Regions from separate parts of the Homo sapiens genome. Here region 2 is linked to region 1. The links come from fine-mapping of genetic effects on gene expression. Tissue or cell type: whole blood. Region 1 holds a variant in brackets; the other region holds the start of a gene. All regions are shown on one strand. Distances are from middle to middle.

What was found. PIP is the estimated chance that this variant, and not a neighbour inherited with it, causes the effect.
Region 2: MAP3K6 starts here. The variant in region 1 is fine-mapped to the expression of MAP3K6 in whole blood (INTERVAL, PIP above 0.99).

Annotation. Positions count from the first base shown.
Region 1 is chr1:27,604,676-27,612,778 of GRCh38, reverse strand. FGR (FGR proto-oncogene, Src family tyrosine kinase) reads left to right here. Exons shown (of 13, transcript NM_005248.3): 13 at 1-715. Among named protein-coding and RNA genes, the nearest start is that of AHDC1, 4.6 kb to the right of the region's middle. RefSeq lists enhancers at 5,327-6,175, 6,067-6,361. The variant G/A (reference allele first, on the strand shown) is at 4,617.
Region 2 is chr1:27,361,903-27,370,005 of GRCh38, reverse strand. It overlaps MAP3K6 (mitogen-activated protein kinase kinase kinase 6), which reads left to right and starts at 3,045. Exons shown (of 29, transcript NM_004672.5): 1 at 3,045-3,748; 2 at 5,094-5,233; 3 at 5,322-5,345; 4 at 5,612-5,802; 5 at 5,921-6,089; 6 at 6,458-6,564; 7 at 6,985-7,155; 8 at 7,253-7,365; 9 at 7,756-7,915. The coding sequence starts at 3,409. It overlaps FCN3 (ficolin 3), which reads left to right. Exons shown (of 8, transcript NM_003665.4): 8 at 529-896. The coding sequence ends at 770. RefSeq lists enhancers at 2,179-3,120, 3,121-4,064 and silencers at 3,317-3,426, 3,457-3,676, 3,747-3,796, 4,387-4,456.

The DNA of each region.
Region 1 (8,103 bases):
CCACCTAGGGCAACCTACTTGTTTTACAGATGGGGCAAAAGGAGGCCCAGAGCTGATCTCTCATCCGCTCTGGCCCCAAGCACTATTTCTTCCTTTTCCACTTAGGCCCCTACATGCCTGTAGCCTTTCTCACTCCATCCCCACCCAAAGTGCTCAGACCTTGTCTAGTTATTTATAAAACTGTATGTACCTCCCTCACTTCTCTCCTATCACTGCTTTCCTACTCTCCTTTTATCTCACTCTAGTCCAGGTGCCAAGAATTTCCCTTCTACCCTCTATTCTCTTGTGTCTGTAAGTTACAAAGTCAGGAAAAGTCTTGGCTGGACCCCTTTCCTGCTGGGTGGATGCAGTGGTCCAGGACTGGGGTCTGGGCCCAGGTTTGAGGGAGAAGGTTGCAGAGCACTTCCCACCTCTCTGAATAGTGTGTATGTGTTGGTTTATTGATTCTGTAAATAAGTAAAATGACAATATGAATCCTCAAACCATGAAATACCCTTGAACCTTCCTTTGGGAGCGGGGGTGGTCAATAGGGGGTGAACGGACAGATATGGCTACAGGCAGCAGCAGGGGAAGCTGGAGAGGGCCCTAATGCCTACCAAGCACGGGGCATCCAAGGTGTGGAGTTTTAGAACACCCAGAGTCCCACTGCTCATCTGCACGTGAGTTTAGAAGACAAGCAGCTGAAGATACATTAAAATGTCCCCTTCGTTGCTGATATGGCCTTCAATCTGTGTATAATAGGTTTGCTAATTCTTTATCTGAGTTCATCAGATTTGCCATTCATCACAGGCGCAATGGGACAACCTTAGGCCTCCTTTGCCAGGGCAGGGAGGAAGACCACAGTGGACCCTCTGGAGCTGTCAGACTCTCCAAAAGAGGACAGAAGAGAGGGGAGGAGAGAGAAGAGGCCTGAGGGTTAGTCTAACTCACTGGATCTCATTAGGGGAGTTTTGCCCCCAGGGGAGCTTTTGGAGAGGTTTGAAGGCAGTTTGATTTGTTTGGATCCTACAGGTAGGGTTCAGGGATGCTGAACAATCTGCAGTGCACCTGCGCGATGATGAATCTTCCCACTCCCTCGTTCCCCTGAGAGAAACTCTGGAAGCTGACATGCCTCCGTGTGGAAACAAGGGGAGCAGGGAATAAAGATTCCCACCTCTCCCATCAGAAAATGTTTGTTGACCATCTGACTTACTAAGGGAATGGACAGAGAAGGAATCTGGGAGCTGGGAATCACTGCAGCAATTGGCAAATCATTACTGAGCATTGACTCTGCAAAGCATTGACTCTTTGCTAAGGAGGACCCTGGGAACACAAACATGAATAAGACCTGTCCCTGCCCTGGAGGAGGAGTTCATAGTCAAGCAGAGGAGGAAAATTATAATAATAATAACTCACTTATTAAGTGTCTTCTGAATGTCAGATGTATTTACAGCCATCTTTTCAATTTAATCCAGTACTGAGCCTGGTTCTGTGATTAGCCCCATTTGTAGGTGAGAAAACTGAGGCTCAGGGGTTACATGATGTACCAAGAGCATGCAGTGTATGTGACAGAGCTAGGATTTGAACCTAGATCTTACACCAAAGCTCATGGTCTTTTCACTAGACTTCATTGCCTCTAGGCTTTGGGAAGAGAGCCTCTGTGGAGTGTGTGTGTGTGCGTGTGTGTGTGTGTGTGTGTGTGTGTGTGATCCTTCCTCCTCTAGTTATTGGTAGAAAGATTCCCTGGAAATCCTCCTATGCTGGGTGACCTAAAGGAAAGAAAGATAAGGCAATCAATGCAGATTGAGAATTCCCTGTGTCCTGCCCTGTGCTGGGGGTTGCTGAATGAGAGCAGTAAGATGGAGAGAAGCCAAATGGCTGCTCAGAGGGGTTGTCATAGGGGTGGGAGCCTTAGCTCCACAGAAAAAGTCTCAGGGGCCAAGGCTTCCCAAGGGCCACAGTTTCTGGCTGACCAAACTCACAAGAGCCTGATGTATAAGCCAGAGGCCAGTGATTCTGCCTGCCATGAAATAAGCAGAGAAGAGCACGGCTCTGGAGCTGTAGTGCCTGGTGTGAATCCTGCCTCCACCACTCACTAGCTGTGTGGTTTAGTGCAAGTTTTTCACCTCTCGAAGCCTCAATTTCCTCATCTGTGAAATAGTAATCAAATGATCAATACATGTGAGCTCTCTCTGTCACTACCATTTGCAAATTGTTGACTGTGTGCCAGGCATCCTGCTAAGTGCATGCATGCTGCGATTTTATCCTCGCAGATCCCTATGAGGAGGAGTTTGTTGTATCTTCATGTTGCTAATGAGGAAACTGAGGCACAGTGAAGTGAATCAGCAGGACAGAAGTGGCAGAGCAGGGGCTTACACCAAGTCTTCTGACTCCAAAATCAGTGCTCTCAGTCTCCACAGCCTTTTTCTGGGACCAGAATATTCTTGTCTGCCCTACAGGGCTCTGTCTGGTACCAGGATGCCCGTTTGGTTTCAATGAAAGCCCAGCAGGGCAGTGAACCACCTGGAGTTCACCAGGGCCCTCGCTGCTCCTCAGTAGAGACCAGAGCCTCCTGAGCCTGGAATCCCTGTGTCTACTGGTGCCTTCCTTGTCTCTCCCTCTGAAACAGCTAGATGAATTCTCCCTTGCACCCCGTTTTCTGTGCAGCCTTCTGTTCCCTTCAGATAGAGCACAATGCAATTGATTAGGCTTCTGCTTTCTCAATTTCAATCACATCCTCGCCCTGCCTCCCTGAGATTACAGGCGGGTCACCTTGATTGCGGTTTGCACCGTTCACAAAACTCTTCAGTCGTTTACAAAACCATCTCTCGCCTCATTCACTCCCCCACCTGGCTCTTCTCCTCCGTGATGCGTGGATTTTACTGGTTTAAGACTCAGAGGGCAATTTTATTTCCAAGTTCATGGTGGGGGAGGAGGACACCTAATTGACTAATGCGGGTATTTTGCATGCATCATCTAATTTGATCTTCACCACAAGGCAGCGCAGATGTGTGATTATCCCCATTTTACAAAAGAGGAAACAAGACTCTGAGAGGCTACAACACTGGCTCAAGGTCATACAGGTGGATGGTACAGCCAGGATTTGAACTCAAAGTCTCATGTGTTCCCCGGGTCACATTTCTTTATTTGAAGGAGCAGCATGGGAAAGTGTCATATTGACCCAGAGTCAGGTCCAGGAAGGGCCTGGTGCACGTAGGGCTCAGGGGTAGCTCCCTACATGCTGAGGATTGTACTCGTAAAAGAACTAAGTCATTTATTAATTTCACACACATCTACTGATGTCTCCTGTAGGCTGGTCCTGTCTAGGAGGCAAAACAGTAAACAATGACAACACTTAGGGGCAAGGTCAGTCTGGGAGCCAAGTCTGGGGGATTTCTTGGAGTCTGTGAAATAAAAGTCTGCCTGATGAAGCAGCCAGAGGGTGAGGTCATCTCCAGCAGAGGGAACAGCATGTGCAAAGGCCCAGACGTATGGTAGAGTAAGGCCCATTCAGGCCAGGCAAGTGCCAATAATTAGGCATGGGAGGGCTGAGGGTGCAGATGAGGCATGGAAGACGAGGGATGGAGAGTCAGAGGCAAGAAGTAGGAGGGGGAAAGCCAAGGGGTATGGGCTCTGAGTTGTGGGGAAAAGAAAGAAGAAATCTGGGGGACCCAGGACTTATTGTGGGGAATGGAGTCTACTCTGGATCCCACTGCTCCGGGACTGAGCTGAGTGGATCCTCTCTCCACTCCACCAGGTACAGTATCGAAGACACACACACACACACACACACACACACACACACACACACACCCCAGGTACAGTATCGAAGACACACACACACACACATACCCCAGGTACAGTATTGAAGACACACACACACACACACACACACACCCCAGGTACAGTATCGAAGACACACACACACACACACACACACACACACACACACACACACGAGCCTGGATGGTCCTGCAGTGATGTTCACACTCTCTCTAGTGGTGACTCTGAGTACTACATCCAAAACTGCAAGAAACTTTCCCCCCTCCCGGGATGGGAGAACCAGGTCTCTTCAGAAACTTCCCACCACAGGACAGGAGATATGGCACAGTTCCTGCTCTCAAAGAGGTCACAGTTTAATGGTGATGGGTGCTAACAGGACAGATGCGGGCAGAAAATGACAATAAAGCTATGTGGGAGAACAGGGGAGAGTCCTAACTCAACTGGGCAGGGGGAAGTCTGGGAGGCTTCTCAGAGGAGGTGTTGATTCATCAGAAACAAGAGTAAGAGTTTGCTTGGTAAAGAAAGAAGCAACAGAAGGACATTCCAGACTGGACAGAATTAAGTGAGCTCAAAGGCAAGAAATGAGACTGCTCAGGGAGTTACAATTAGGTAGGTGTGCTAGGAATGTGAAATTTCAGAGGGGTTAGTGGCTAAAGATGAAGATGGCAAAGGCAGGCATGGGTCTTGTCTACCATGCACTCAAGCTGGGATCCTAAGCCTTGGACAATGGGGAGCCACTGAAGGGTTTTGAGCAGGTCAGATTCACTTTTTTTTTTTTTTTTAGACGGAGTCTCACTGTTGCCCAGGCTGGAGTGCAGTGGTGCCATCTCAGCTCACTGCAACCTCTGCCTCCC[G/A]GGTTCAAGTGATTCTCCTGCCTCAGCCTCCCAAGTAGCTGGGACTACAGGCGGGAGCCACCACGCCTGGCTTATTTTTGTATTTTTAGTAGACACGGGGTTTTGCCATATTGGCCAGGGTTATCTCGAACTCCTGACCTCAAGTGATCCGCCCGCCTCGGCCTCCCAAACTGCTGGGATTACAGGCATGAGCCACTGCGCCCAGCCAGATTCACTTTCAGAAGGAACTCTTTGGTGACAATGGAGAGGAAAGATAGGAGGCGAAGAGGCAGGAGACGGACACCCCTCTGGGACACAAAGAACCATACCAGGTCACACTCATAGGACACACAGCTTTGACCGCGCCTATGAACCAGACATAGCGATACAAGTAATGGCACCTACAGACGTGTCAGTGGGATCCCAGGCTGAGCACCCACAGACAAACATGCACTGCTTCACACTCAGACACAGAAGTCAGGCCTGCAAGCGAAAGCAAACCGAGGACACAGGGTTACCCCCCAGACACAGGCGCACAGCGGGAATCACACAACCCTGACGGCCACAGGAATTCACACACACTCAGTGTGGCTGTCAAGGGCCCGACCCTGCTCCCCCTCTGTCTCCCCCAGGTCCCTCACCACCTCCGGCAGGAACAAAGCTGACCTTTGCCCTCTGGCCTCTGGCCTCTCCTCCCACACCCCCTGCCCCAGAGGGAGGAGCTGTTTGAAGTCTGGGCTGCAGCTGGGGTTTCCTGTGGCCTAGAGGAATGTGGGAGGACTTGCACGGGGGAGGGGAAAGGGGCTGGCCCAGGAGGAGGGCTAACAGAGCCTGGGGGCCTTAGTCCCCACTGTACCACAATGAGGGAGGCTTCCTGCTTGCGTGGTCTCTTGGGCTCCAGCTTTGAGCTGTTCCCATCCAAAGAAGGGGAAAACCAGGGCCATAATGGCTCCAGTCCAATGGGCCTCTTGTTCCTGGATCTGCAGCTCAATAGCTTAGGATAGGCCCGCAACCTCTCTAAGCCTCCGTCTCCCCTTCTGCATACTGGGCTGAACCACCCTCTAGCAGTCCACACCTCTCCTGAGCAGCCCCAGGAGTAGGGCCACCCCCAGAACTTCCATATTCAGGGAGGGCCGTGCTAGTCCCTACCCAAGACTCACTTCATCCTGCCCTTTCCATGAGGTCTGGGGGCCTGGCTCCAGGCTGCTGGGACCTGTCAGTTATTGTCATTATTAGTGTGACTCATCATCTCTCTCACCATGCCCTTGCCAGTTTTCACAGTGCTTTTACATCTATATGCTCAGTTAATCTTCTCAACAGCTCTGCTTCTATTTTACACATGGGAAAACTGAGACTCACACAGATTGAGGACACACAAGTAAAATCAAGATCAGGACCAGGCCTGTCTAGCTCCTGCTCCACATGGCCTCTCAAACCCAAGGCCCCATTCCAGACTCTCATCTTTATTTTCCAGGGTCTAGCTACACCACCTTCTGCTTACACCGAAACAAAAGCGGCTGGAGGGAGCTGAGCCCAGAGAGGGATGATGCAGGCTCTTCCAGAACCTGTGTCCTCTGCCTCAAGCCTTCTTTCCCTCCTGCTCGCTGACAACTGCTGAAGCAGAAACGAAGATTAGACACTAGGTGGCAGCAGCAGCCCACGGGAAGACAACTTGAGTTTGGGGAGACCACCCCCCGCCAAACTCAACACAATTTGGAGAGGCTCCACGAAAAAGACCAGCCCCCAAATAACAGGGAGACTCTGCAATGCTTGGTTTCCAGTGATGATCAACACTTTAAGGGCCAATGGAATTCACCCTCACAGGGGAAGGGGACCGCTGAAGTAGCCTGGGGTGGGAGGGGCATGCTCGAGAAACCCTACCTAACTTCTATTTCCCTCTAACTCATAGAGCCATGGGCCCTACTAATCTTGCCCTCTGCATCTCATTACTTAACCTCCCCCTCCCATGCTTTTCCCAAACTCCCCTTCATCTCAACCTACTGGGGCTCTCCACACCCCAGAAACCATCCTATATTATCCCACCCAACTCCCTCCTAAAACTTGATTCAAACTGAGTAGAGTCTTCATGACTACAGGCAGAATCTAATGGGTAATGGGGGAAGGGAGAGAAAGGAGGAGGAACCTGGGTCTCTTTCACCCTCCCCAACGCCGAAGTCTGTCTGTCCTATAGGGGGCCAGCTAGGGCAAGGTGCCAAAGCCTCATCTATTTGGGATCACTTCAGGCCCAGGCTTTGGAGCTGCAGAATCTCTAATGACTTTAGCCACTACTTTTATGAGCATCTGACCTTATATTTCCCATTCAATGAATAAATCTTTGAACCCAAGTCCTAACTTGTCTGCAAGGAGAAGCTGCTCCAAGATGAGGGCCTCTCCAGTCGGTCATGGCAGCCCCATGATGCCAAATCAATAGTGTCCCGTTTAGAGCCCTAGACCTCTCCTATTACTGCTGCACACACCCTCTGCCAAGGGCCAATAGAGAGTGTTCCCCAGATCCCCTCTCTTGTCCTCTGGGGGTACTGGACTGCCATAGAGAAGGAGCTTGGAAGGAGTGAAGGTGTGGGGAAGATAGTGACCAGGGAGTTGCGGTTGGCAAAATGTCACCAGCTGCCTTTGTCACACACTGGCCAACACCCTGCAAGGCCAAAGGAAGAGTCAGAAACAGGTAGGCCAGAGACAAAGGCACTGCTCTAGGAACTTCAGACCTGGAGCAAGATAGACAAGGCCAGCAGACACAGGGTGTGGAACATCAGACACACAGATGAGGTGGTCCAGTGAGGTGGGACCGCCGCAGGGCCAGTCAGGGCCGGCGTTGGTAGACACCTAGGACACAGGACACGACAGCCACTATGCATTATTCATCTCCGTGTCCCTTGCAAGCCCTGCATACCTCAGTTAACATTTGTTGAAGTGCCAAGAAAGGACACACAGACACAGGGAGAGAAGGTCAGTTACAGAAATGGAGGGAGTCACAACTCCTTGTCATAGCCCAGGGGTTAAGCTTGTGGGGTTTGGAGTTAGTCAGACCCTGGTTCAAATCCAGCTGGGTTCAGCCACTTGCTAACTGGAGAACCTGGACCTCAGTGCCCCCATCTCTAAAATGGAAATAACAGCACTATTTTACCGCAGCAGTTCAGCCATCTCCGGGGGCGGTAACAAGGCCCCCAAGCAGCGCACATTCCCATCTGTGGGATAGGCTAGGCAGGGGCTGGAGAACACATGTGACCTGAAGAGGAGGTAGGTGAAAGTGCTGAGCCCAGCCCCCGGCCGCGGCAGGAGGTCAGCACCGTTCAATCTGAATCCTGCTTCCTGACACAACGCAAATGCTCAGCAGAATTCGGAAAAGGGTGTGTGTGTTCTATCTGCGGATTATCCAGGACTTTTGAGCCCTCGCCGCCCTTGGACATATAGGAAAGCTGGGAGTTGCAAGGGCGAAACCGAGGTCGGAGTTTGAGAGGAGGGGTCACTGAGTGAGGAAGCAGCGCTGGCT
Region 2 (8,103 bases), 240 kb after region 1:
GGGGGAGCGCAGGGAGGCAAGGAGGAAGTTTTGGGTGCCGCCTGAGGCTCTGTTGAGTGTTAGTGTTCTCTGCTTTGGAAGAGGAACCACGGAAGTCTTCTTTCAGAGAAACAGTGACTATTGGGGAGAGATTTAAAAGAGGGAAGTGGTTATGAGGGAGTGCCTCAGGGAACCACCTTTCCTGGCCAGGCACCTAAGAGGTTCCTCCCAGCTTTTCCTAGCAGAGTTGCTCAGACTGGATGGGAGCTGAGAGAAGACAAAGGAGCTAGAGGGGGGCCGGGGATTCTGGAGGGGGTAAGACAGGGGGAAAAGCTGGGAGCTTTGGAGCCAGACAGTCCCGAGTTCAAGTCCTGCCGCTGCTTCAACCAGCCGAGTAACCCTGCGCAAACAACCTGGCCCCTTGGTGTTGCTCGTGGGGCCTGATAAAATTCAACTCTTAGTTGCTCTGAGACTCCCATGGCATTATATCTCCAAAGGTGCCAGGCGTGGTGCTGGGCACCAAGGTGCTTTCCATCCCTTCCCTGCTAGGGGATTCCCTGAGCCTCCACAGTGGGAGGCCCTTTACCACCTATGACGCTGACCACGATTCAAGCAACAGCAACTGTGCAGTGATTGTCCACGGTGCCTGGTGGTATGCATCCTGTTACCGATCAAATCTCAATGGTCGCTATGCAGTGTCTGAGGCTGCCGCCCACAAATATGGCATTGACTGGGCCTCAGGCCGTGGTGTGGGCCACCCCTACCGCAGGGTTCGGATGATGCTTCGATAGGGCACTCTGGCAGCCAGTGCCCTTATCTCTCCTGTACAGCTTCCGGATCGTCAGCCACCTTGCCTTTGCCAACCACCTCTGCTTGCCTGTCCACATTTAAAAATAAAATCATTTTAGCCCTTTCAAGACTCTTCCAGTTACTGGGAAAAAACCCTAGAGGGCAGAGCAGGGACACAAGTTTCAGCTCCATTCAGGGAAGAATTTCCTTCCAGTCAGGAAGATGGAAAGGACAGCCTCTAAAGTAGTGAGGCTTCTGTCTCTGGAGGTGTGCAAGACAAGGCCAGAGGGGCATATAGTGGAAGGACTGGAGGAGATTCAAGCATCCATTGACAATTTCCTGAGGCTCTCTGGGTCCTGCAAGTGGATGGCTTTGTGGCAGGAATTGCACAATTGCACAGCTTTTTTGTTTGTTTGTTTGTTTGTTTGTTTTTGAGACGCAGTCTCGCTCTGTCGCCCAGGCTGGAGTGCAGTGGCACCATCCTGGCTCACTGCAAGCTCTGCCTCCCAGGTTCACGCCATTCTCCTGCCTCAGCCTCCCGAGTAGCTGGAACTACAGGCACCCGTTACCACGCCCGGCGAATTTTTTGTATTTTTAGTAGAGACGGGGTTTCATCATGTTAGCCAGGATGGTCTCAATCTCCTGACCTCATGATCTGCCCTCCTCGGCCTCCCAAAGTGCTGGGATTACAGGTGTGAGCCACTGCGCCCGGCCGCTTTTTTTTTTTTTTTTTTTTTGAGATGGAGTCTTGCTCTGTCGCCCTGCCCAGGCTGGAGTGCAATGAGCCAGAGGGGCATACAGTGGAAGGATTAGAGGAGATCCAAGCATCCATTGACAATTTCCCGAGGCCCTCTGGGTCCTGCAAGTGGATGGCTTTGTGGCAGGAATTGCACAATTGCATAGCTTTTTTTTTTTTTGAGATGGAGTCTTGCTCTGTCGCCCCGCCCAGGCTGGAGTGCAATGGCACGATCTCCACTCACCGCAACCTCCATCTCCCAGGTTCAAGTGATTCTCCTGCCTCAGCTCCCAAGTAGCTGGGATCACAGGCAGGTGCCACCACACCCAGCTACTTTTTTTTGTATTTTTAGTAGAGACGGGGTTTCACCATGTTGGCCAGGCTGGTCTCGAACTCCTGACCTCGTGATCCACTCATCTTGGCCTCCCAAAGTGGGATTACAGGCATGAGCCACCGCCCTGGCTGGGAATTGCACAGCTTTCTCAGCCTGTCGGTTGCCCATGCCTGTCCTTTGTAAGTTGTCTGTTTTCCACTCCAGCCTCTGTTGCAGGCCAAGTTCTCAAACTCTACCACTTCCTGCCTATCTCATTGGGTGTCAGTTCGAATCCAAGGTCAAACCAAGGAAGGTACCTTTTTCTTCCACAAGGCAACAGGGCAATGAAACAGCCATTGAGTAGCATTTAAGCAGTTTATTTGCCCAAAGCCACATTCTAGTAAGTGGCAGAATTAAATAGTTAAGAGTCTGACAGGCGGTCCTGGGTTTGCACCCTGCTGTCATGTGCTGAGTGATCCTGGACAAGTTATTCAACTTAAGTCCCCAGTTCTTGGTTTCAGGGTCCACTGAGGCTTCTACCAGGTTGCTGCCTCACTCATTAATTCACACAAGAAAGTTGGGGACTCTTGGGGATTTGAAGCTGAGAAGCTGCTGTAGTGCAAAGGGCTGGGGTTGACTCCTTCAAGGGGTGGCTAAAGAAATGTTTAGAGTTGTTTAGAGTAGGAAGTGCTTCTCAGGTCCCATGGCCACGTTCTGCCTAGAAGTCAAAGGTCAGCGGGGGTCCACAGCAGGTTGGGTCCTGGGGAAAGCAGCCCCCTAGTGACAGTTAAGGCTCAGATGCCAAGTCCCACTCCAGGACTGAAGGCTTTCGGGCAAGCGGCCTAGGGTGTAGGTTTCCCCCATCCCAGTCCCTCCCTGCCTGCGCTCACTGGGCCCGGGAGGACACCCATTGTTCATCATGCTCTGCGCACCCTGATGTCTCTAGAGAGCCATTCATTCAACAGATACCTGCAGAGCAGGGCCTGCATATCGAACCTTTTCCCTAGCCCTGGCCTCCTCACACATTTTATGTGCACTTGCTGTGAGCAGTCCACAGTCTTTGGCGTGCACAGGGGCACAGGCTGTTCCGGAAGCCGCCAGTCTCCAAAGTTCTGGCGGGAGAGAAGGGAGGGGAGAGGCTGAGTCTCAAGCCGCTAGGGAGCGGCTCTGCCCCAGGGCCGAGGGTGGAGCTTTCTGGGTCGGCCGGGAAAGGGCTGGGCTTAGCCTACAAGTGAAGGCAGGGCAGCGTTGGCGGGCGCTCCCTTGAGAAGTCCAGGTGGCGGGCACCTCCGAGCCGATTCCCAGGATCCCCCAAGTGGCTCTGAGCTGCCGATCACCGGATGCCCCAGATTCCTGGGACCCAATCCCGGATTTCAGAACCTCAGGACCTTGCAAGTCCGAGCTAGGATTTCTCCCTGGACTTTAGATTCCTGGAACGGGACGTCAGGCCGTATTCCGGATCCCTAGATCCCGTGGGAGATTCTCCGATTCCGAACGGATTCCAGATCCCAAGATTCCTGATCTGCCGGCCCAGGCTCCTGCCCCGCCCCCGGTTCCCAGTGCGCGGCGCCCCGCGCCTGAGCGCCCCCGCATGGCGGGGCCGTGTCCCCGGTCCGGGGCGGAGCGCGCCGGCAGCTGCTGGCAGGACCCGCTGGCCGTGGCGCTGAGCCGGGGCCGGCAGCTCGCGGCGCCCCCGGGCCGGGGCTGCGCGCGGAGCCGGCCGCTCAGCGTGGTCTACGTGCTGACCCGGGAGCCGCAGCCCGGGCTCGAGCCTCGGGAGGGAACCGAGGCGGAGCCGCTGCCCCTGCGCTGCCTGCGCGAGGCTTGCGCGCAGGTCCCCCGGCCGCGGCCGCCCCCGCAGCTGCGCAGCCTGCCCTTCGGGACGCTGGAGCTAGGCGACACCGCGGCTCTGGATGCCTTCTACAACGCGGGTGAGAGCGCTGGGGGCGGGGCCGGATCCGGGCGGGACTCAGGGTCCTGGGAGGGGACCAAGCCGGGCTCGAAGGCTCAAGGGAGGGGCCGAGAGGGGTACCGGGTCTAGGGGACTTAAAGTGAGCTAAAGCTGAAGGGCTTGGGACAGGGCCGTGAAAAAAGTGGGATTTAGGGGATCTGGGGCGCGGCCGGGCTCGGGACGAGACAGGGATCCGGGCGCGGCTCTAGGGCTCGAGGTTGGGGCTTAGGCACCCTTCAGTCGGAGCGGTGCCCAGCCAGCGGGGCAAGGATGGGGAGGGGCTTTGGAACTCTGGGGCGGGGCGGGGAGCGGCGCGGGGCTGTGGTGTCTCAGGGGTGGGGTTGGAGAACTCAGCCTCACCCTCAGGAGAATGTCACGCGGATCTCTTGAGGACAATTACTGGGAGAGGAGCTTGGACTTAGGGAAAGGGGCCGGGAGGCTGGAGTTCAGGAGTCCTAGCATACTATTTCCAAGGATCGGGCTAGGAGAGGCAAAAAGAGAAGCGAAGGGGCCCGACGGGACTGGATACTGGGTGAGGGAGCTTAGGTTAAGTGGCCTCAGCGGCCCAGAAAGAATGGGCGGGGAAGGGGCGGGGAAGTGGGCGGGAAAGGATGGCTCAGGGGCGGGGCCAGAAGGAGGCTATTCCCCCGCGAGTCACTCCTCCCTCCAGCCAGCCCGGATGCTCGGCCCCCATACTTACTTGCTTATGCTAGAGTCCAGTAGCTGTGCTTCCTGGATGTCCATGAAATCGTAGCCTAAAATGAAGGCTGACCCGACCACTCGGACACAAAGATACAATTATCGACAGACACAAATCGCATACATGTTGACTCATGCAGGCCCTAGCAGACGCTGTCACACACACAGATACAGTCAGACATAGTAAGCTATACATGTCACAGATATACACATACATACATTTAGGCACAGCGTTGTCTATGCACACTGATGGTAGCCCCTTTCAAGAGCCTGTGCTGAAGACCAAAGGGAGGGGACTTCTATGTTTGCGCAACTCCCACCTCCTAAATGGCCCGTAACAGACTCAACTGGTCCACAGCCTCCCTTCCCCCATGCCAGGTGCTCACAGGCTCTGAACCGTGGCCTGAGGGTCCCAACCCAGTGAGCCCAACTCCTCTCCTGCAACACTACAGAGATCAGTTCTGTGAAAGTGCCAGGGGAACCCTAAAAAGGGCCGACTGAAGCCCAAAGCAGAACCAGACCCTACTGGAGTCCCACAGCAAGGCAGGTCAAGCCAGGATGGACCCCGGCTCCTTCCCCATCAAGCTGGGCTTCAGGGATCAGCGCCACCCCCTCTGTGCCTGCAGATGTGGTGGTGCTGGAGGTGAGCAGCTCGCTGGTACAGCCCTCCCTGTTCTACCACCTTGGTGTGCGTGAGAGCTTCAGCATGACCAACAATGTGCTCCTCTGCTCCCAGGCCGACCTCCCTGACCTGCAGGCCCTGCGGGTAGGTGGCCTGGGGCTGGTGGAGGCAGGCACAGGGCTGGGGTAAGGCCTACACAGAACACCAGTATCTGACTGTCTGCCTCCTGCAGGAGGATGTTTTCCAGAAGAACTCGGTGAGCAGAATCCACCTCTCACTCAAAAGTGCCCTTTGACTTCCGCTATGACCTCTGACCTCCACTAATCCCCCTGGCCTCCTCAGTCACCTAACCCCCCACTGACATCCCAAGTATTCCTCTGTTTCCTGTTGCCTCCTCTCATGACGGGTGCCCCTTTCCTGCGATTCCAATTCCCACTGATGCTGACCTTTGATGCTCTCACTCCCCTTGTCTAGCCCTGTGCTGACCTCTGACCTCACTGATTCCTGCCTCCCTCCCACCAGGATTGCGTTGGCAGCTACACACTGATCCCCTATGTGGTGACGGCCACTGGTCGGGTGCTGTGTGGTGATGCAGGCCTTCTGCGGGGCCTGGCTGATGGGCTGGTACAGGCTGGAGTGGGGACCGAGGCCCTGCTCACTCCCCTGGTGGGCCGGCTTGCCCGCCTGCTGGAGGCCACACCCACAGACTCTTGGTAATGAAGGCCCCCAGGGAGGGTGCTCCAGGAGGGGGCTGGTGAGGGTATGGTGGGCTGGGGCTGAGGTACAGGCCCCACCATTCTCTCTCCCTGCCTCCCCTACCCTGGGCATCAGTGGCTATTTCCGGGAGACCATTCGGCGGGACATCCGGCAGGCGCGGGAGCGGTTCAGTGGGCCACAGCTGCGGCAGGAGCTGGCTCGCCTGCAGCGGAGACTGGACAGCGTGGAGCTGCTGAGCCCCGACATCATCATGAACTTGCTGCTCTCCTACCGCGATGTGCAGGTGCGTGGTGTTCAGAGAGGCAGTAGGGCAGCTGGCATTTGAGGTCAGACAAACCCAAGTTCAGTTCCTGGCTGGGCCACTTGCTCACTGGTGGCTTTGGGCAAATTATCCAATGTCTCTGAGTGTTGGCCTCCTTATTTGTTAGAGAGGATGAGCATGTCGCTGCCTCCTGGGGCAGTTGTGGGGTTGGGAACGCCCAGCATGGGGCATACAGTAGGTTCTCCCTGTGAGGTGTGTCCGCTGGGCCTGAGGGAGGCGTGCAGAAGATGGTGGCTGGGTGGGATGTCAGGAGTGGGACAGGACCCTGGCTCAAGGTTCCTTGGGGCCTGGAGGCCCATGATGCCAGTGCTTGCCGTTCCCTGATGCAGGACTACTCGGCCATCATTGAGCTGGTGGAGACGCTGCAGGCCTTGCCCACCTGTGATGTGGCCGAGCAGCATAATGTCTGCTTCCACTACACTTTTGCCCTCAACCGGTGAGTGGCAGAGCAAGGGTTAGGTCATAGCCACATAAAGGTTTCCGAAACCTAGGTCTCTGCGTGCAAAGCCATTGCTGTCTGGGATCACTGCTGTTCGGGGAATTTGCTGACCGGGGTCACTGATGTCAATAGGTCCCTGTTGTTCTGAGTTACTGCTGCCTGGGTCGGGGTGGGGGAGGTGGTGCTGCCTGTGGTATGGTCACCGCTGTCCAAGATCACTGCTCCTAAGAGTCATCGCATCTAGGAATCACTTCCATCTGAGGTCACTAGAGAGGTCAGTGCTGGCCAGGGTCATTATCATTTTGAGGTCATTATTGTCAGGCCCCTGGAAGGGTCCCTGCTGGTTCAGTGTCTAGAGGTCCCTGGACAGAGTAGGCCAGGGCCATCAGGGAGGGCCTGAGCCCATCTTTTCCCTAGGAGGAACAGGCCTGGGGACCGGGCGAAGGCCCTGTCTGTGCTGCTGCCGCTGGTACAGCTTGAGGGCTCTGTGGCGCCCGATCTGTACTGCATGTGTGGCCGTATCTACAAGGACATGTTCTTCAGCTCGGGTTTCCAGGATGCTGGGCACCGGGAGCAGGCCTATCACTGGTAAAGAGCACAGTGAGTGGCCGGTGGGCTAAGCTGTGAGATGAGGGGTGGTGCTGTGGGCATCAGTCCAGCCCTGTGCCCCCTACCCCCACCCCAGGTATCGCAAGGCTTTTGACGTAGAGCCCAGCCTTCACTCAGGCATCAATGCAGCTGTGCTCCTCATTGCTGCCGGGCAGCACTTTGAGGATTCCAAAGAGCTCCGGCTAATAGGTGAGCACAGATCCTGGCTCTTGTCTCGTCACCCACAGGGGTTCCGAGGGGCCTGGGAAGAGGGCAGGGAGAGAGCACACTGGGCAAGAGCTAGGATGAGCTCATCCATTTTGGACTGTCCTGCCCATACCCACACCTGGGTCCTCATACCTGTTCTGGGCCCTCAGGAGCCCTCAAACCCACAAATGTTCCCAAACTCACATCTGCGTGTCCATTACATCCTGAATTCCACATATACCTGTGCCTGAGCTCCTGTTCCCACCCGAGATCTTGCCATACTCAATGCCATACTCATATCTATGTTCATGTCCACACTCGGGCCCACAGAAATGGTGGGCCTCACTCACCCCTGCACCCACACTCACTGGAGCCCATGCCTCTCTCCCCCAGGCATGAAGCTGGGCTGCCTGCTGGCCCGCAAAGGCTGCGTGGAGAAGATGCAGTATTACTGGGATGTGGGTTTCTACCTGGGAGCCCAGATCCTCGCCAATGACCCCACCCAGGTGGTGCTGGCTGCAGAGCAGCTGTATAAGCTCAATGCCCCCATATGGTAGGTGGCCCCCTCTGCATTCTTGGCCTGACCTGGGCTGTCAGCTCCTGCACCTATGTCCATTGGCATGCTAGACTGAACCCTGAGCCAATGACCTGGCTGCTTTTAGACCAGTGCCCGTGGCACCCCATGCCAACGTTCTAGCTATATCCAGGCCAGTTTCCTCTCCCTGGCAGTGCTGGTTGGTG